Linked DNA regions of Homo sapiens: region 2 is linked to region 1. Evidence: fine-mapped expression QTL. A gene starts in region 1. The other region holds a variant in brackets. All regions are shown on one strand. Distances are between the middles of the regions.

What was found. PIP is the estimated chance that this variant, and not a neighbour inherited with it, causes the effect. A credible set is the group of variants that fine-mapping cannot tell apart.
Region 2: its variant is the best candidate, but not a certain one, in a credible set for the expression of FMR1 in whole blood (TOPMed, PIP 0.57).

What each region holds. Positions count from the first base shown.
Region 1 is chrX:147,906,155-147,916,471 of GRCh38, reverse strand. FMR1 (fragile X messenger ribonucleoprotein 1) reads right to left here and starts at 4,553. Exons shown (of 17, transcript NM_002024.6): 1 at 4,242-4,553. The coding sequence starts at 4,292. FMR1-AS1 (FMR1 antisense RNA 1) reads left to right here and starts at 4,655. Exons shown (of 2, transcript NR_024503.3): 1 at 4,655-4,830; 2 at 5,477-7,041. RefSeq lists enhancers at 4,133-4,232, 4,813-5,022 and a silencer at 4,393-4,732.
Region 2 is chrX:147,820,149-147,830,465 of GRCh38, reverse strand. It overlaps the pseudogene RNU6-382P. Among named protein-coding and RNA genes, the nearest start is that of FMR1-AS1, 87 kb to the left of the region's middle. The variant A/G (reference allele first, on the strand shown) is at 6,081.

The sequences.
Region 1 (10,317 bases):
ATATATAAAGCAAGTTATCATTTTGTCCCCACTCCCCCCGCCCCGTTGTATGGGGACACTAACAACATAAAAGAATAAAGAGAGACAATAAACCTCATCAACAGTCCTTCCAACCATACCACATGTCCAGGACTTCATATAGGCTACAAATTATGTGAAAAACACATTTAGCTTCACTCTGACCAAAAGACAACAGAGACATGTGCAAAGAAAACATTATTAAATTAGTTACTAATTTTTCTTGTGTGTATGTATTCTAACTTTTGAATACTTCAGTTTTATGAGCTCCCAATATAACAAAGACAAATTTCCTAGCAGGGTCAAAGATTTCTAACTTTATCTTTCCTTAACAGGCATCCACATGAAGAAGTACAGCGCCAAGGTTCAAGAATTAGTAACAAAAAAAGCTGGCACATAAACTGAATTATTTCATGATGGCTTTGTATTAACAATAAAAAATGGTAATATAACACTGTAACTATAGTTATAGGATGCTAAGGCAGTGTTATAGCACAAAATACAATCAAAGACCACCATGAAATTGAAAACTAAGCAGGAAATCAAACCAATTTCTTCAAGCTAAATTTCATCATTTCAGGAATTCAGAATCCTGACCCTTAATGGCCCTGACACTTGGTAGTAAGTCACTTACCTAACCTCTCTGTGCATCATTTAAAGAATGGGAATAACAACAATACATCAAATAAAGTATCAGAGAGAACAGTGCCTGGCACCTAGAAAGTACTCATCCCCTGTTAACTATTATTATAATCACGATCCCAATCTTCTCAGGAAGCACATTCCTATAGTGGGCAGAAATCAGAAACTCCAGTAATATACCACTGAATGTTGCATCTAATTAATAATTTGGAGGTTATGAGAATATTTAAGTATGGGGTTAGAAAATGCACAGTTCAAAAGGGGAAAAATGATGCAGCCACAAAGATCCTAAAAACTAAAAAGGGCAATCAGACTGTAGGAAGGAAAAAAAATGTGGTTGACCCCAATAATTCACTTCCTCGAAGTACAGAATAACACCTTTATGCAAAGTTAGCTCAGGAGACTTCAGAGAAACCACGAGTGCAAGTTTATTTACACTTTACCCAAGTTGATTTATAAACTTATAAATTTATAAACCTTATGCAAGTTTATTTGTAGTAAAACTGATTTTACTACATTTCAGCTATGTATCTGAAATGACATGTTAGACCACTAATATCTTCATTAAAAATATCCTTTTGATTGTACACTTTATCATATTTAGCTGCTAGCTGCCATAATACTACTAACCAAATGAAAGTCTGTCCTCAAACACTGAACTTAAAAAAGTATAATCTAACAACAAAATTACAATCTAGTATAATTACACCATATTACAACAAGGAATCAGAAATCAGAGGTTGTATTTTCAGAAAACAAAAAGGTTTGTATCTTATGTCTCCAACATGTGATTTTTCCATCTTTAGTAATTTTCATACTAGTACACAAAACCTACAAATCTTAGGATTCATTAGGGCATTCATATTGGAGTGATACGCATTCTACATTTAAAATGGAGTTAATTCATTACCATTCTCAACACATCAAAACTTCTAGTCCAAAGAAAACAAATTATGTGGGGCAGATGCACCTAGAATAAAGACTTTATTTCATCATTATTCATTTAGAAAATACTTTGTAAAGATTTTATGAGGTGTAAGTCAAAGTGCCTTCATATCTTAACACCTGCAGGGCACTATAAAGTGGTACACGTGACCAATTTTTTCTAAGTCAAACAAATACCTAAGCATAAAAGTAGTGGCTCTGGTGATCGCTAAATCTAACTTTTAAGTTTTTAAGAATAAACACCAGAAGATAGAGAGCTGTCCTTGCAAATATGGTGGTTATGTTAGGCAAATCAAAGTCTGAATTCCATTATACTCAAGTTGTTTGATTTGTTTAGTTTTAAAAGCTTTTCTATCAATTTGATGAACAAGGTTCCTATTTCTTTTTCCATAAATGTAACACTTCTCCACAGCAGTTCATTTTTCATTGGTTTTTATTTCACATCTTTCCTGTCCATCCCACTGGACAAGCAACTCAGTTTACTTTTGCTTTACTTTTAAAACTCACAGCAGTATTATAAGTCATATAAAAATTTCAAGCTTTTTTGTTACAGAAACTGTTCTTCCATCAGTGCAGACCATTTGAGATTTTCTTAGAAATCAAACTTAATTAAATAAACATAACAGCAATTTGTCTGACACACACTTGTTCAAGTATTAACATTTCTCCTCAGGGAACTAAGGGGCAACCAACCTATTCTTCATTCACCTTCAAGTTAAACAACTTCGTTACAAAACAAAACAAAAAAGGAGGGAATTAATAGCAAAAATAGAAGGCATTTCTTATATTCCAGTCAGTGTGCAAGCAAAATCACTGGAGCAAATCATAAGTTGCTGGAAGAGAACAATAAGTACTTCAAGGCCATAATGTGCTACTTGCCCTCTGTGATAAGCAAACTTTAGTGGCATCCAATCTAAGTTTATATCACAGGTCAATCAAAATCTTGCCTAACCATTAGCCGTTACTCACACATATATATGTATATGTATTATAGTTATTAGTGCCAGAAATCTAGTGACCAAAACCACTAATCTAGGACCGTGAACGATTCTACGCAAACTCACCAGAAGAAATTATGGATCAATAAAATCAATGAAATTAAAATTTTGACTGCAGAGTCAACTGAAACAATTTCATATTCATGAGACTGTTAAGAACATAAACGCGGGGTTACCTTTTGCCTCCTTTTACAGCAAAAGGCTTTATCTTTGTGCTCAAAGTATGGAACAGTTTACATACTTTACTCATTTATGAAATATACTGATCTCCAAATGTCTTCATAAAATTGGTAAACACAGAATAAAGTCAATTGTTTATTTTCCTATAGCCAAACGTGTCCTGTCTGAAACATTCAAGCCATTCTACAATACATTTAAGAATTGTGTTGGACACTGCTAATAGCTATTTTCCAGCCTTCCTTCCACACGCACCTTCTATTGCCAAAATACTGTAGTAAGGTGGGATATTATTGAAAGAGGTTATAGACATTCAAAAGGAAATGAGAATTTATAGATGAATTTATACAGCACCTACATACCAACAAACGCACTACTGCTACATCAAATTTGTAAATCTTCCTTTTAAAACTGAAAGGTGTTAGTTGATCTGCAATGGTGTAACTTTAAAAAGCACAGTAAACCCATGAATGCCTATATAAAGCCTCAACAATTCAGTCCACTGCAACACCACAAATTCAAAGGAAATGTGGTCAAGTTCTTAGGGGCACAAAAATATTTTCGCTCAGTTAAAAAAAAAATGCCCTAGTAATAATATACTCTCAGTTAATTACCTGAAGTTTCATGGCATATATTTAGGTCTTTGGAAACTTAAACACACACACACAATTTTTAAGTAGCAGCGCTGCTAATGGTTTTAGACGCTGAAGCATGTGCATTCCTGAATTTACCCCGTTTAACAAAAAGGGGGACGCGAATATTCACGATGATCAACTTCTTCAATGCACTGCTGGGCCATGTTAGGGTCTTCCTGAAACTTTTGGATCTAAAATCTCCTCCGAAATCCACAAAGAGAAGCCACTAAAAATCAGTTGCCATTGTGATTTGGTGCCGACTACCGCTTCTTACTACTCTTTCTTCACAGCCCTCGCCCAGAACAGTGGAGCTCTCCGAAGTCCCAATGCTAGACCGGAAAAGAGAAGCCAAAGGAGACCTGAAGCCCTCTTGGCGCTGCAGGAGGCGGCCCGGCTGAAGCGCCCCCCGCTCCTCCACAACTACCCACACGACAGGCCCGGATCCCGCTGGGAGATGATGTTTAGGAAAGGGGGAATAAGCCATCGCCGTCACTTAGCGCCGATTTCGGCCCTTCCCGCCCGGCTCTAGTACCTGCCGCCGGCCCTCGCCCATCCCCAGCTCACCCCGGCGGGGCTCGGCGCCGAAAGAGAACCCTCTCCTCGCTGGTCTCTCATTTCGATAGGCGCTAGGGCCTCTCGGAGTCGGAGAGGGGCTTCCAACAGGCCCCAAGTCCAGTCCTTCCCTCCCAACAACATCCCGCCGAGCGTGCCCTGGCACCCAGGCGCGGTGCTCGGGAAGAGGGCCCCGGGCCTGCCTCCCGCCGACACCAAGAAGAAAAGGGAGGGAAGGAAGGGCGAAGATGGGGCCTGCCCTAGAGCCAAGTACCTTGTAGAAAGCGCCATTGGAGCCCCGCACTTCCACCACCAGCTCCTCCATCTTCTCTTCAGCCCTGCTAGCGCCGGGAGCCCGCCCCCGAGAGGTGGGCTGCGGGCGCTCGAGGCCCAGCCGCCGCCGCCGCCGCCGCCGCCGCCGCCTCCGCCGCCGCCGCCGCCGCCGCCGCCGCCGCGCTGCCGCACGCCCCCTGGCAGCGGCGCCTCCGTCACCGCCGCCGCCCGCGCTCGCCGTCGGCCCGCCGCCCGCTCAGAGGCGGCCCTCCACCGGAAGTGAAACCGAAACGGAGCTGAGCGCCTGACTGAGGCCGAACCCCCGGCCCGCTGCGGGTGTAAACACTGAAACCACGTCACGTGATCAACGCTGTTCCCTCCCCCCGCGGGCTCAGCCCCTCGGCCCCGCCCTCTCTCTTCAAGTGGCCTGGGAGCGCGCGCATGCGCGCTGCTGGGAACCGGCCGGGGTGCCGGGTCGAAAGACAGACGCGCGGGCCGGGCGTGCGCGGGCTTGGTGGAGGGCGGGAAGGCTGAAGGGCGGTGACAGGTCGCACTGCCTCGCGAGGGCCAGAACGCCCATTTCTGCAGAGGTGCACTCAGTGGCGTGGGAAATCAAATGCATCCGGTTATCCCAGTTCGGCCTCTCTGGGATTCCGCGGGAGGGGGTGTCTGGTCTGGTTTGGTTTGGTTTGGTTTGGTTTGGTTTGGTCCGGTTCAAAGTAGCGCAGTCTGACTGAGCGGGAGGTGGAGTGGAAGGCGAGAATAGGGGTGAAGGATTAGACAGAAGAAGACTTTGAACTAGGAACAGTGGCAACCAGGGTGACCCAGGCTTTTGTGACCCGTAGAGGCAGAAGGTGAGGCGTCTACGCCCTCTCTCACCAGATTTTGGGCGGCCCTGTGGAGACACCCTGTGCCCTTTAAGGGACATGGATTGAGTCGGGATCTCAAAATGTGAGCCTTTCCTCAGACCCAGCTTTGACCCACGTACTCGCCTTTCCTCAACTCATTTTCATACTTTCACTTGACTATATATTTTTTAAAAATTGTGTTAAGCACTTGAGGTTCATTTCTGCCCCTACTGTATGTGCACCCTGTGCCAGAGGGTGGGGTGAACACGTGTGTAGCAGTCATGCGTCCTGTCCACAGGGGCCGATGCACCTCCTTGCAACCCTTTACATTCCACTGTGAAACAAACCTCAACTTTTTCTTATTCCTGTTTTTACACCGTGCTTATAGCTGCCTTAATCCATGTTCCCTTCGGGATGCTGGTATCCAACTGAGAAGTTGACGGAGCATCTATCGTGTGCCAGACACTGTGCTAAGTGCTAACGAGAAATCGGTGAGCAAAACAGAAAAGAAAAAAAAAGAAGAAACGACTGCCAGCATTGAACTTAGTACCTAGCAAAGTAGGTGGACATAAATCAAATTGTCAGACAAGTAAATGAGTAGTTGCAGCTGTGATAAGGGGTATGAAGAATAGGCGCTTCCATGATGGCGGAACATGACCTAGTCTGGGGTGGAGAAGGGGAGATGATTCCAGCTGGAATATGGCAGGTGAGAGTTAACTAATAGCACTGAGTTGGCAGAGGCAGGATGACCTGCCCCAGGCAGGTGCCCCAGAATGAGAGGATGTTGCTGCTGGTGGAACTCCAGCTTTAAAGCGGTGGATCTAGGGCCACATTCCTCAAGGCCATAGCAAACAGGAAAGACCTTTTGGACTAGGGTCTTTGGAGTAGTCACATGAGGCCAAGAACCCAATAGGGCTGAAAGAGAATCTCATCATAGGCTGAATGGGAGCAGAGCATTAGCTGCAACTCCAATGTATTATAGTAAAAGGGGACACATTGATTAGAATGATTATACCCCTCCAAGTGTAAGCTGTTGTTCAATTTACCCAGGGCTTAAAAATATGTCAACTCTTCACAACCATTTTTACTACAAGCCACACTCAACCTGTGTTGTTCCCTGAACCTGTGATGCACTTTCATCCGTTCATGTCTCTACACATCCTTCCTGGGCCCCATAGAGGCCCTGCACCTTAAGGTTTTCAGCTGGATTCCTATTAGCTAGTTATTTTATCTCAGGTACAGAGAGTTAACTTTGCTCCTCAATTTTCAGCACATTGTCATATCAGTCCCTACAGGGTCCTTGTTTACATTATTTTATAGTGTTTATATTATTTTTTCCTCATCTTTCTCGATCCCCACTCTCATTCTTCTAGACACAAGCTGCAATATGTTCGATAGAGATCCTTGATAATTTAACACAGATAATGTTTTGTTTATGCCTCTTGCATTTACAGAGATGGTATTGGACTGTAAATCTCTATTTCCCACTGTTTTACTCAACAGTCTGTTTTTGAGCTATACCCACATTGCTGTGTGTACACCTAGTTTGCTACCGAGTATGCCAGAAATTTTATTCATACATATCCCTACTGATCGGGCATCTAGGTTACTGCCAACTCCCTGAAGTCATACTGTGGTGAAAACCCTTGTGAATGTCTTTACAAACCTTTGCCAGAACTTATTTTGTGCTCTTGTAGAACTTTGTGCATACCCTCTGCTTCCTCATTACACTGCTTGGCATATAGCAGAGACTCAACAAATGTTGAATACCTCTACTATGATGGTTAGTGTACTAGAATAATTTATTTATATTTCTGTTTTCCTTATTGGATTATTAGTACCTTCCAGACAGGGCAAATGTCTTTTCTATCTTTGTGTCCCTGGCACATTAAAAGTGGTTGATTTCAAGGTATGTTCAATGAATGAATAAATACTTATCTTCACTGCCAGTACATACTGCAACTTAGTCTTCCCCACTTGACTCTGAGTCTCAGCCTTACTCTGATCTCTAGCTTTTGATATTTCCCCTTTCAAGATAGCTTACCTGAATTCAGACACTGAGCTCAGGCCTGATCATGAGCCTGCTCTTCCAAAGTCCTCTCTCTCTCTCTCTCTTTCTCTCCTGTCTCTCGTTACAGGCAGCTCCTGCCTTCCAGTTCGTTGCTCAAGCCTAAAACTGAGACATTTTGACCCTCTTTCACACATCAGATCCATCAGCAAATCATTGTAGAATCCAGACTCTGTTTCTGATCATTTGCTCAGCTAAAACCATAGTCCAAGCTTCCATTCTCTTACCTGCATTATGGCAGCAACTTCTTCGCTGGTATCCCTGCAGTCACTGTCCACTGTTGTACCCTCTCTGACAGTTCTCAGCACAGAAGACAGAATGACCCTGTTGAGGTGTCAATCAAGTCACTCTGCCACTCACAATCCCCCAGTGACTCCCTACATCTCTCAGAGTAAAAGCCAGAGTCATTATTTATTCTGGCTTCAGTGCCCTATATACTCTGACTTCTGTTATCTCCGCTATCTCACCTTCTACTTTCCCCCTTCACTTCATTCCAGTGCATGAAATCTATCTAGTTCACCTAGATTTTCTCCTATGTTATCTTTCAGAAGTTTTACAGTTTTGTGTTTTGCATTTAGGTCTATGATCCATTTTGAGTAAATTTTTTTCAAAAGATATAAGGTCTGTATCTAGATTATTTTTTGCATATGAATGTCCAGTTATTCCAGCACTGTTTATTGAAAAGGCCATTGTTTCTCATTCCAGCCATAATGTTTTCTTTGTTGTTTCTTGAAAATAGCAGACAGGTTCTGTCTCTCTCCCCTCACTAGAGTGTAAGCTCAGTGAGAACAAAGATTTCCATTTGTTTTATTCACTGCTTGTCCCCAGTGCCTACCACAGTGTCTGGAACATAGTGAATGTTTACTAAATATTACATGAATGAACGAATATGTGTTGAGGACCCGGCCGAGGTTGAGTCAGCTCTCATGCCTATATTTATCTGATATTGGAATGATGCTTCAGTGTTTCTAGCCCTGCCTTGGCCCTTGGTTTCCATTAAATTGCTGCCTGTTGTCTTTGCATTGATTTATTCTGTGCTATTTCCTGCTCCTTCGCAATTTGAGCCCTCTGAGTCTTTTCCATGGCTCAAACCCAGCTGAAATGCCTTCTGCCCTTTCCGACTCTCAAATCTTATGTACCCTTCAGGACCCAGCTAAAGTCACACTTCTTTCTTGACACTTTCTCTGACAATTTCCTTTAACCATGACCTCTCATTCAAATGAGATATTAGAAAAAGAATAATTAATTGGCTTTATTTTTTAGAACAGTTTTACATTTATGGAAAAATTAAGCAGATAGTGGAGAGAGTTTCTATGTACTTCCTAATCTCCCTCCTCCCCTACAGTTCCTCCTGTTATTAACATCTTGCATTCGCATTGTACATTTATTACAACTGATGCATTATTACTAACTAAAGTCTATAGTTTACATTAAGATTCACTCTTTGTGTTGCATAGCTCTGTGGGTTTTGAAAAAAGCATAACATATCCACCATTACAGTGTCAGCAGAACAATTACACTGCATTAAAAAATTCCTTGTGTTCCACCTATTCATCTGGTCTACCTGCAACCAACCCTTGGCAATCACTGATGTTTTTACTTTCTGCAGAATTTTGCCTTTTCCGTAATGTCATAGAGTTGGAATCATATAGTATGTAGTCTTTTCATACTGCTTTTTTTTTTTTACTTAGCAATATACATTTAACATTCCTCTGTGTCTTTTCATGGCTTGATAGTTTATTTTCTTTTATTGTGCACAGTATTCCACTGTATGTATATACCATGGTTTGTTTATCCATTTATTTATTGAAAGACATCTTGGTTGCTTTCAGTCTTTTAAAATTATGAATAAGGCTCCTGTAAACTTTCTTGTACAGATTTTTGTATGGACATAAGTTTTCAACTCATTTAGGTAAATACCAAGGAGCATGATTGCTGGATCATATGGTAAGACTATGTTTTGCTTTATCAAAAATTACCAGATGATCTTCCAAAGTGGCTGTAACAGTTTGCATTTTCACCAGCAATGAGTGAGACTTCCTGTTACTCCACATCCTTGCCAACATTTGGTGTTGCCAGTATTTTGAATTTTGGGTATTTTAATAGGTGCATAGTAGAATCTTATTGTTTTAGTTTGCAATTTCCTAATGACATATGGCATTGGGCATCTTATGCTTGTTTGTCACGTATGTATCTTCTTTGATAAGGTGTCTGCTCAGATCTGTTACCCATTGGGTTTTTTTTATTGATGATTTTTCAGTGTTCTTTATATATTTTAGATATCAGCCCTTTATCAGATTATGTATTTTGCAGATATTTTCTCCCAGACAGTGGCTTGTCTTTTCATTCATTTAACAATGTCTTTCATTGAGCAGACATTTGTAATGAAAAAATTTCGACTGTTCAGTTTTTTTCAGGGATCGTGCTTTTAGCATTGTACCCAAAAAGTCATCACCAAACACAAGTTCACCTAGATTTTCTCCTATGTTATCTTCCAGAAGTTTTACAGTTTTGTGTTTTGCATTTAGGTCTATGATCCATTTTGAGTAAATTTTTGTGAAAGATATAAGGTCTGTGTCTAGATTGTTTTTTGCATATGAATGTCCAGTTATTCCAGCACCGTTTGTTGAAAAGACCATTGTTTCTCCATTGAATTATTTGCTCCTTTGTCAATGATCAGTTGACTGTATTTGTATGGATCTAATTCTGGCATCTTTATTTTGTTCCATTTATCTACAGTTGGCCCTCTGTATCCATGGGTTCTGCATCAACAGATTCAACCAATGACAGATCAAAAATATTCTTTAAAAATCCCCTAAAAATGGCCAGGAGGGGTGGCTCATGCCTGTAATTTTGGTACTTTGGGAGGCCAAGGTGGGGGGATTATCAGGTCAGGAGTTCGAGACCGGCCTGGCCAACATAGTGAAGCCCCGTCTCTACTAAAAATACAAAAAATTAGCTGAGCATGGTGGCGGGCACCTGTAATCCAAGCTGCTCAGGAAGGTGAGGCAGGAGAATCACTTGAACCCAGGAGGCAGAGGTTGCACTGAGCCAAGACCGCACCACTGCACTCCAGCCCTGACGACAGTGCAAGACTCAGTCTCAAAAAGAAAATCCCCTAAAAATAACAATATAACAATAAAAATAATACAAATAAAAAA
Region 2 (10,317 bases), 86 kb after region 1:
CAGGATGATGCTGGCCTCATAAAACGAGTTAGGGAGGAGTCCCTACAATTTTTAAAATTTGTTTTAGTATAAATGATGCCAGCTCTTCTTTGTACCTCTGGTAAAATTCAGCTGTGAATCCATCTGGTCCTGGGCTTTTTCTGGTTGATAGGCTATTTATTACTGCCTCAATTTCAGAACTCATTATTGGTCTATTCAGGGATTCAATTTCTTCCTGTTTCAGTCTTGGGAGGGTGTATGTGTCCAGGAGTTTATCCATTTATTCTAGATTTTCTAGTTTATGTGCATAGAGGTGTTTATAGTATTCTCTGATGGCTGTTCGTATTTCTGTGGGGTCAGTGGTGATATCCCCCTTATCATTTCTGATTGTGTTTATTTGCATCTTCTCTCTTTTCTTCTTTATTCGTTTAGCTAGTGGTCTGTCTATTTTATTAACCTTTTCAAAAAACCAGCTCCTGGTTTTGTTGTTATTTTGAAGGGTTTTTTGTGTCTCTATCTCCTTCAGTTCAGCTCTGATCCTAGTTAATTCTTGTCTTCTGCTAGCTTTGGGGTTTGTTTGCTCTTGCTTCTCTAGTTCTTTTAGTTGAGATGTTAGGTTGTTAACTTGAGATATTTCTAGCTTTTTGATGTGGGCATTTAGTACTATAAATTTCCCTCTTAACACTGCTTTAGCTGCATCCCAGGGATTCTGGTACATTGTCTCTTTTTTCTCATTAGTCTCAAAGAATTTCTTGATTTCTGCTTAATTTTATTATTTACCCAAGTGTCATTCAGGAGAAGGTTTTTCAATTTCCATGTAATTGTGTTATTTTGAGTCAATTTCTTAATCTTGAGTTCTAATTTGATTGCACTGTGGTCTGAGAGACTGTTAGGATTTCAGTTATTTTGCATTTGATGAGGAGTGTTTTACTTCTGATTATGTGATCAATTTTAGAGTAAGTGCCATGTGGCAATGAGAAGATGTATATTCTGTTGAATTTGGGTGGAGAGTTCTGTAGACACCTATCAGCTCCATTTGATTCAGAGCTGAGCTCAGGTTTTAAATATCTTTGTTAATTTTGTGTCTCAATGATCTAATATTGACATTGAGGTGTTAAAGTCTCCCAATATTATTGTGTGGGAGTCTAAGGCTCTTTGTAGGTCTCTAAGAACTTGCTTTATTAACCTGGGTGCTCCCATATTGGGTGCATATATAAGATAATTAGCTCTTCTTGTTGAATTGAACCTTTTACCATTATGTAATGCCCTTCTTTGTCTTTTTTGAACTTTGTTGGTTTAAAATCTGTTTTGTCAGAAATTAGGATTGCAACCCCTGCTTTTCTCTGTTTTCCATCTGCTTGATAAAATTTCCTCCATCCCTTTATTTTGAGCCTATGTGTGTCTTTGCATGTGAGATGGGTCTCTTGAAGACAGCATACCAATGGGTCATGATGAGAGGTGACAACATGCTAGCAGCCCTCGCTCGCTCTCAGTGCCTCCTCGACCTTGGCGTCTGCTCTGGCCGTGCTTGAGGAGCCCTTCAGCCCACCGCTGCCCTACGAGGGCCCCTCTCTGGGGCTGGCCGAGGCCGGAGCTGGCTCTCTCTGCTCACGGGGAAGTGTGAAGAGAGAGGTGTGGGTGGGAGCCGGGGCTGCACGCAGCGCTCACAGGCCAGCGCAGGTTCCAGGTGAGCATGGGCCTGCTGGGCTTGATCAGAGGCTGAATCCTGTGTGTGGACCACTGTTCCCTCCTCGTGGGACCGTTGGCCACGATAGCAGGTCTCCGTCTCTTTCTCACTTCCCCTCTTTTCCTCTTGATTGTCTGGGATGAGCTCCCTCTGGGCTGCTGGAGCCCTCTGGAGCCCTCTCGGCTGCTGGGCTGCTGTCTGGATGAGCTCCCTCAGGCTAGGTGCCTCAAAGTCCCGTGGTGAATGCCAGTGAGAGGTGAGGCTGGCTGAGCTTCTGGGATGGGTGGGGACTTGGAGAACTTTTCTGTCTAGCTAAAGGATTGTAAACGCACCAATCAGCACTCTATGTCTAGCTAAAGGTTTGTAAACACACCAATCAGTGCTCTGTGTCTAGCTAATTGGCTGGGGACTTGGAGAACTTTTCTGTTTAGCTAAAGATTGTAAACGCACCAATCAGCACTCTGTGTCTAGCTAAAGGTTTGTAAATGCACCAATCAGCACTCTGTCAAAATGGACCAATCAGCTCTCTGTAAAACGGACCAATCAGCTCTCTGTAAAATGGACCAATCAGCTCTCTGTAAAGTGGACCAATCAGCTCTCTGTAAAGTGGACCAATCAGCAGGATGTGAGTGGGGCCGGATAAGGGAATAAAAGTAGGCCACCCGAGCCAGCAGCGGCAACCCGCTGTGGTCCCATTCCATGCTGTGGAAGCTTTGTTCTTTTGCTCTTCACAATAAATCTTGCTGCTGTTCACTCTTTGGGTCCACGCTACCTTTATGTGCTGTAACACTCACCTCTGAAGGTCTGCAGCTTTACTCCTGAAGCCAGCGAGACCACAAACCCACCGGGAGAAATGAACAACTCTGGACGCGCTGCCTTTAAGAGCTGTAACACTCACTGCGAAGGTCTGTGGCTTCACTCCTGAAGTCAGTGAGACAACGAACCCACCAAAAGGGAGAAATTCCGGACACATCTGAACATCAGAAGGAACAAACTCCAGACACACCATCTTTAAGAACTGTAACACTCACCACGAGGGTCCACGGCTTCATTCTTTAAGTCAGCGAGACCAAGAACCCACCAATTCCAGACACAATGACTCTATCAAGCTTGCCGTCTGTGCCTTTTAATTGGGACATTTAGTCCATTTACATTTAAGGTTAGTATTTTTGTGTGTGAATTTGATCCTGTCATCATGATGCTAGCTGGTTATTTTGCAGGCTTGTTTATGTGGTTGCTTCATGGTGTCACTGGTCTGTGTAATTCAGTGTGTTTTTATAATGGCTGGTAGTGGTTTTTCCTTTCCATATTCAGTGCTTCCTTCAGGAGCTCTTGCAAGGCAGGCCTGGTGTTGAAAAATTCACTAAGCATTTGCTTGTCTGAAAAGGATCTTACTTTCTTATTCGCTTATGAAGAAAAATAAGGAATGCTTCCTGAATTTGCATGTCATCTTTGTGCAAGGGACATGCTAATGTTCTCTCTACCATTCCATTTTAGTATATATGCTGCTGAAGTGACCGCCAAAATATTTTCTTAATGGTTGCGTAATAGTCTTCAGTCATTCTTCAACTGGTAGTTGTCCATTTTTCTTTCACCTTTTTACATTAGCAAAAAGATCCACAAGGAACATATGTATATCCATAGATGTGGGGTTTTCTGTTAAACATAAAAATGGAATTGTTCAGTGTGTACTGTTTTTGAGTGCAAGTAACAGAACTCAAACCAGCAGTGGTTTAAACCAGGAATATATTAGTTGTTTAGTGAACAAGAAATCTGGTAGAAGATAGTCATAGTTTGAGTGTTCAAAGTCATAGTCCACAAGCCAAGCTCTTTTCATAATTCTATTCTTCCATTCCTGGGCATATTGCCTCTTGGTTACAAGATGTCTACTGAAGCTCCAGATGTTCACACAACAAGATACAAAGTATAATGGGAAGGAAGAGGGCAAACAAACCCTGTTTTATATAGTTCTCTGTAAGGTAGAACTGTATGGCCCCAAATAAACTTTCTCTTACATCTAGATGGCCAAAAACAGTTTCACATATACCCATCTCTATACCAGTCAATGGTCAATGGGAATGGCATGTCATGATTTGTTTGGATTGGGTGCATTCCTCCCTAGACAAGACCATGCTCCTATCAGTGAAGAAAAAAATACATAGAGAAAATAATTCTTGGAAAGGCAACCAACAGCGTCTGCCATGATATGATATGGAATTGATTAATATGCTACTTAGACATCCTCAGTAAAATATCTGTTAGGGAAACAGGAGCCTAGCAGAACCAGAGTGACACCGTTTTAAGTTCAGCTCCATCTTGAGACTAAAAAGGCACTTTCGGTTCCAGCCATGATTCATGGTTATAAAGTGTTTATAGTTGAGGAAAACCTACAAGGACACACACCTACAATAGCAGAAAGTCTAGATGTCCCAATACCCGTGACAATACATGGTTTAAAATAATTATAGTTATTCTTTGATGTACTTACCCACTAAAATATCAAGGATAGTTTTCTTTAAATCAACAGAATAATAAATTTTCTCATGCTGTCTGCTCTCCTGCACATAGTCACAGCTTAGTTTAGTCTTTGCATAGACAGGACACTTATATAAGAAAAGCTTGAAGACAGTGCATTCCTCTCTTAATTTCTGAGGATGCCCTACTCTGTAACAGTGTAGCTTTCAATATCTTATCACTGCACTCTGCAACTCACCTTGAATTCTTTCTTCTGTGAGATTCAAGAACCCTCTCTGCAGATCTGGATTGAGACCATGTCCCTACAAAGGACATGATCTCCTTCCTTTTTATGGCTCCATCAGGTTTCTTGTGTTTGCTAAGTCAGTTATCACCTGTCCTTTTGCTTTCCAACTTCTAAAATTTTGATTCTACTGTCTCCTCCTATCCTGACTCTCCCTCTCTCTCTGTATGTGTGTGTGTGTGTGTATGTATGTTTCCATCTATTACTTTATAATTTTCCTGATGTTTCATGAGGTAGTGGAAGCATATATCTTCAACCACCAAGTTTTTTAAGTCCTACACTCTTAGCCAGTATGTACCATTGTCTTGCAAGTGAGGCTGAAGAGTGAGCTGAATGCCCTTGAAAGTCTGAATGAAATTGTTGTGTTGGGAAAATTATCACAGCAACAATGTACAGGATGGATGAGAAGGGGGAGAAAACAGAAGCAGGTTATTTGTCCATTTGCCTTGCCTGTAGGATCCTTCCCCTTACTTCTCAGTTTTTTTTAAAATTATACTTTAAGTTCTGGGATACATATGCAGAACGTGCAGGTTTGTTAAATTTGTATGCACGTGCCATGGTGGTTTGCTGCACCCATCAACCCGTCATCTACATTAGGTATTTCTCCTAATGCTATCCCTCCCCTAGCCCCCCACCCCCCGACAGGCCCCGGTGTGTGATGTTCCCCTCCCTGTGTCCATGTGTTCTCATTTTTCAACTCCCACTTATGAGTGAGAACATGTGATATTTGGTTTTCTGTTCCTGTGTTAGTTTGCTGAGAATGATGGTTTCCAGCTTCATCCATGTCCCAGCAAAGGACATGAACTCATCCTTTTTTTGTGGCTGCATAGTATTCCATGGTGTATATGTGCCACATTTTCTTTATCCAGTCTATCGTTGATGGGCATTTGAGTTGGTTCCAAGTCTTTGATATTGTGAGTAGTGCTGCAGTAAACATATGTGTGCATGTGTCTTTATAGTAGAATGATTTATATTCCTTTGGGTACATACCCAGTAATGGGATTGCTCAGTCAAATGATATTTCTGGTTCTAGATCCTTGAGGAATTGTCACACTCTCTTCTAAAATAGTTGAACTAATTTGCACTCCCACCAACAGTGTAAAAGCATTCCCATTTCTCCACATCCTCTCCAGCATCTGTTGTTTCCTGATTTTTTAATGATCGTCTTTCTAACTGGCGTGAGATGGTATCTCATTGTGTTTTTATTTGCATTTCTCTAATGACCAGTGATGATGAGCTTTTTAAAATATGTTTGTCAGCTGCATAAATGTCTTTTTTTGAGAAGTGTCTGTTCATATCCTTCACCCACTTTTTGATGGGGTTGTTTGTTTTTTTTTCTTGTAAATTTGTTTAAGTTCCTTGTAGATTCTGGATATTACCCCATTGTCAGATAGATAGATTGCAAAAATTTTCTCCCATTCTGTAGATTGCCTGTTCACTCAGATGATAAGTTTCTTTTGCTGTGCAGAAGCTCTTTAGTTTAATTAGATCCCATTTGTCAATTTTAGCTTTTGTTGCCATTGCTTTTGGTGTTATAGTCATGAAGTCTTTGCCCATGCCTATGTCCTGAATGGCACTGCCTAGGTTTTCTTCTAGGGTTTTTATGATTTTAGGTCTTACATTTAAGTCTTTAATTCATCTTGAGTTAATTTTTGT[A/G]TAAGGTGTAAGGAAGGGGTCCAGTTTCAGTTTTCTGCATGTGGCTAGCCAGTTTTCCCAGCACCATTTATTAAATAGAGAATCCTTCCCCCATTGCTTGTTTTTGTCAGGTTTGTCAGAGATCGGATGGTTGCAGATGTGTGGCATTATTTCTGAGGCCTGTGTTCTGTTCTGTTGGTCTGTATCTCTGTTTTGGTAACAGTACCATGCTGTTTTGCTTACTGTAGCCTTGTAGTATAGTTTGAAGTCAGGTAGCATGATGTCTCCAGCTTTGTTCTTTTTGCTTAGGATTGTCTTGGCTACACGTGCTCTTTCTTGGTTCCGTATGAAATTTAAAGTAGTTTTTCTAATTCTGTGAAGAAAGTCAATGGTAGCTTGATGAGGATAGCATTGAATCTATAAATTACTTTGGGCAGTATGGCCATTTTCACCATATTGATTCTTCCTATCCATGAGCATGGAATGTTTTTTCATTTGTTTGTGTTCTCTCTTATTTCCTTGAGCAGTGGTTTGTGGTTCTCCTTGAAGAGGTCCTTCATCTCCCTTGTAAGCTGGATTCCTAGGTATTTTATTCTCTTTGTAGCAATTGTGAATGGGAGGTCACTCATGATTTGGCTGTCTGTTTGTGTATTATTGGTGTAGAGGAATGCTTGTGATTTTTGCACATTGATTTTGTATCTTGAGACTTTGGTGAAGTTGCTTATCAGCTTAAGGAGATTTTGGGCTGAGACGATGGGGTTTTCTAAATATACAATCATGTCATCTGCAAACAGAGACAATTTGACTTCCTCAATTCTTATTTGAATATCTTTTATTTCTTTCTCTTGTCTGATTTCCCCAGCCAGAACTTCCAATACTATGTTGAATAGGAGTAATGAGAGAGGGCATCCTTGTCTTGTGCCAGTTTTCAAAAAGAGTGCTTCAAACTTTTGCCCATTGAGTATGATATTGGCTGTGGGTTTGTTATAAACAGCTCTTATTATTTTGAGATACGTTCCATCAATACCTAGTTTATTGAGAGTTTTTAGCATGAAGCAGTGTTGAATTTTATCAAAGTCCTTTTCTGCATCTATTGAGATAATCATGTGATTTTTATCATTGGTTCTGTTTATGTGATGGATTACATTTATTGATTTGCATATGTTGAACCAGTCCTGCATCCCAGGGATGAAGCCAACTTGATCGTGGTGGATAAGTGTTTTGATTTGCTGCTGATTCAGTTTGCCAGTATTTTACTGAAGCTTTCCACATCGATGTTCATCAGGGATATTGGCTGAAATTTTATTTTTTGTTGTGTGTCTGTCAGGTTTTGGTATCAGGATGATGCTGGCCTCATACAATGAGTTAGGGAGGAGTCCCTCTTTTTCTATTGATTGGAATAGTTTCAGAAGGAATGGTACCAGCTCCTCTTTGTACCTCTGGTAGAATTCGGTTGTGAATCCGTCTTGTCCTGGAATTTTTTCGGTTGGTAGGCTATTAATTACTGCCTCAATTTCAGAACTTGTTATTGGTCTATTCAGGGATTCGACTTCTTCCTGATTTAGTCTTGGGAGGGTGTATGTGTCCAGGAATTTATCCATTTCTTCTAGATTTTCTAGTTTATTTGCGTAGAGGTGTTTATAGTATTCTCTGACAGTAGTTTGTATTTCTGTGGGATCGGTGGTGATATCCCCTTTATCATTTTTTATTGTGTCTATTTTATTCTTCTCTCTTTTCTTCTTTATTAGTCTGGCTAGTGGTCTATGTATTTTGCTAATCTTTTCAAAAAAACCTGCTCCTGGATTCACTGATTTTTTGAAGGGTTTTTTTGTGTCTCTATCTCTTTCAGTTCTTCTCTGATCTTAGTGATTTCTTGTCTTCTACTAGCTTTTGAATGTGTTTGCTCTTGCTTCTCTAGTTCTTTTAATTGTGATGTTAGAGTGTGGATTTTAGATCTTTCCCACTTTCTCCTGTGGGCATTTAGTGCTATACATTTCCCTCTAAACACTGCTTTAGCTGTGTCCCAGAGATTCTGGTATGTTGTGTCTTTGTTCTCATTGGTTTCAAAGAACTTACTTATTTCTGCCTTCATTTTGTTATTTACCCAGTAGTCATTCAGGAGCATGTTGTTCAGTTTCCATGTAGTTGTGCGGTTTTGAGTGAGTTTCTTAATCCTGACTTCTAATTTGATTGCACTGTGGTGCGAGAGACTGTTTGTTATGATTTCTGTTCTTTTGCATTTGCTGAAGACTGTATTACTTCCAATTACGTGGTCAACTTTAGAATAAGTGCTATGTGGTGCTGAGAAGAATGTATATTCTATTGATTTGGGGCGGTGAGTTCTGTAGTTGTCTATTAGGTCCTCTTGGTCCAGAGCTGAGTTCAAGTCCTGAATATCCTTGTTAATTTTCTGTCTCATTGATCTGTCTAACACTGACACTGGGGTGTTAAAGTCTCCCACCATTGTTGTGTGGGACTCTAACTCTCTTTGTAGGTCTCTAAGAACTTGCTTTATGAATCTGTGTGCTCCTGTATTAGGTGCATATATATTTAGGATAGTTAGCTCTTCTTGTTGCATCAATCCCTTTACCATTATGTAATGCCCTTCTTTGTCTTTTTTTATCTTTGTTTTGGTTTAACGTGTGTTTCATCTGAGACTAGGATTGCAACCTGTTTTTTTTTTTTCCTTTCCATTTGCTTGGTAAGTCTTCCTCCATTCCTTTATTTTGAGCCTATGTGTGTCTTTGCATGTGAGATGGGTCTCTTGAATACAGCACACCAATGGGTCTTGACACTTTATACAATTTGCCACTCTGTGTCTTTTAATTGGGGCATTTAGCCTGTTTACATTTTAGGTTAGTTAGTATGGTTATGTGTGAAACTGATCCTGTCATTATGATGCTAGCTGGTTATTTTGCATGTTAGTTGATGCAGTTTTTTCATAGTGTTAATGGTCTTTACAATTTGGTATGTTTTTGCAGTGGCTGGTACGGGTTTTTCCTTTCCATATTTAGTGCTTCCTTCAGGACCTCTTGTACAGCAGGCCTGGTGGTGACAAAATCTCTCAGCATTTGCTTGTCTGTAAAGGATTCTATTTCTCCTTTGCTTATGACGCTTAATTTGGCTGGATATGAAATTCTAGGTGAAAATTCTTTTCTTTAAGAATTTTGAATATTACCCTCCCACTCTCTTATGGCTTGTAGGGTTTCTGCAGAGGGATCTGCTGTTAGTCTCATGGGCTTCTCTTTGTCAGAAACCCGACCCTTCTCTCTGGCTGCCCTTAACATTTTGTCCTTCATTTCAACCTTGGTGAATCTGACAATTATGTGTCTTGGAGTTGTTTGCTCTTCTCGAAGAGTATCTCTGTGGTGTTCTCTGTATTTCCTGAATTTGAATGTTGGCCTGTCTTGCTAGGTTAGGGAAGTTCTTCTGGATAATATCCTGAAGAGTGTTTTCCAACCTGCTTCCATTCTCCCTGTCACTTTCACGTACACCAATCAAGTGTAGATTTGGTCTTTTCACAAAGTGCCATATTTCTTGGAGGCTTTGTTCTTTCCTTTTCATTCTTTTTTCTCTCATCTTGTCTTCATGCTTTATTTCATTATGTTGATCTTCAATCTCTGATATCCTTTCTTCCACTCGATTGAGTTGGTTATTGATACTTGTGTATGCATCACGAAGTTCTTCTGATCCATCAGGTCCATCAGGTCATTATGTTCTTCTCTAAACTGATTGTTCTAGTTAGCAATTCCTCTAACCTTTTTTCAATGTTCTTAGCTTCCTTGCATTGGGTTAGAACATGCTCCTTTAGCTCAGAGGAGTTTGTTATTACCCACCTTCTGAAGCCTACTTCTGTCAATTCGTCAAACTCATTCTTCATTTAGTTTTGTTCCCTCACTGGCGAGGAGTTGTGATCCTTTGGAGGACCGTTTGGAGGAGAAGAGGCATTCTGGTTTTTGGAATTTTCAGCCTTTTTGCACTGCTTTTTCCTCATTTTCATGGATTTATCTACCTTTCATCTTTGTTGTTGGTGACCTTCGGGTGGGGTTTTTGTGTGGACATCCCTTTTGTTGATGCTGATGCTATTCCTTTCTGTTTGCTGGTTTTCCATCTAACAGTCAGGCCTCTCTGCTGCAGGTCTGCTGGAGTTTGCTGGAGGTCTACTCCAGGCCCTGTTTTCCTGGGTGTCACCTGCGGAGGCTGCAGAACAGCAAAGATTGCTGCCTGTTCCTTCCTCTGGAAGCTTCGTCCCAGAAGG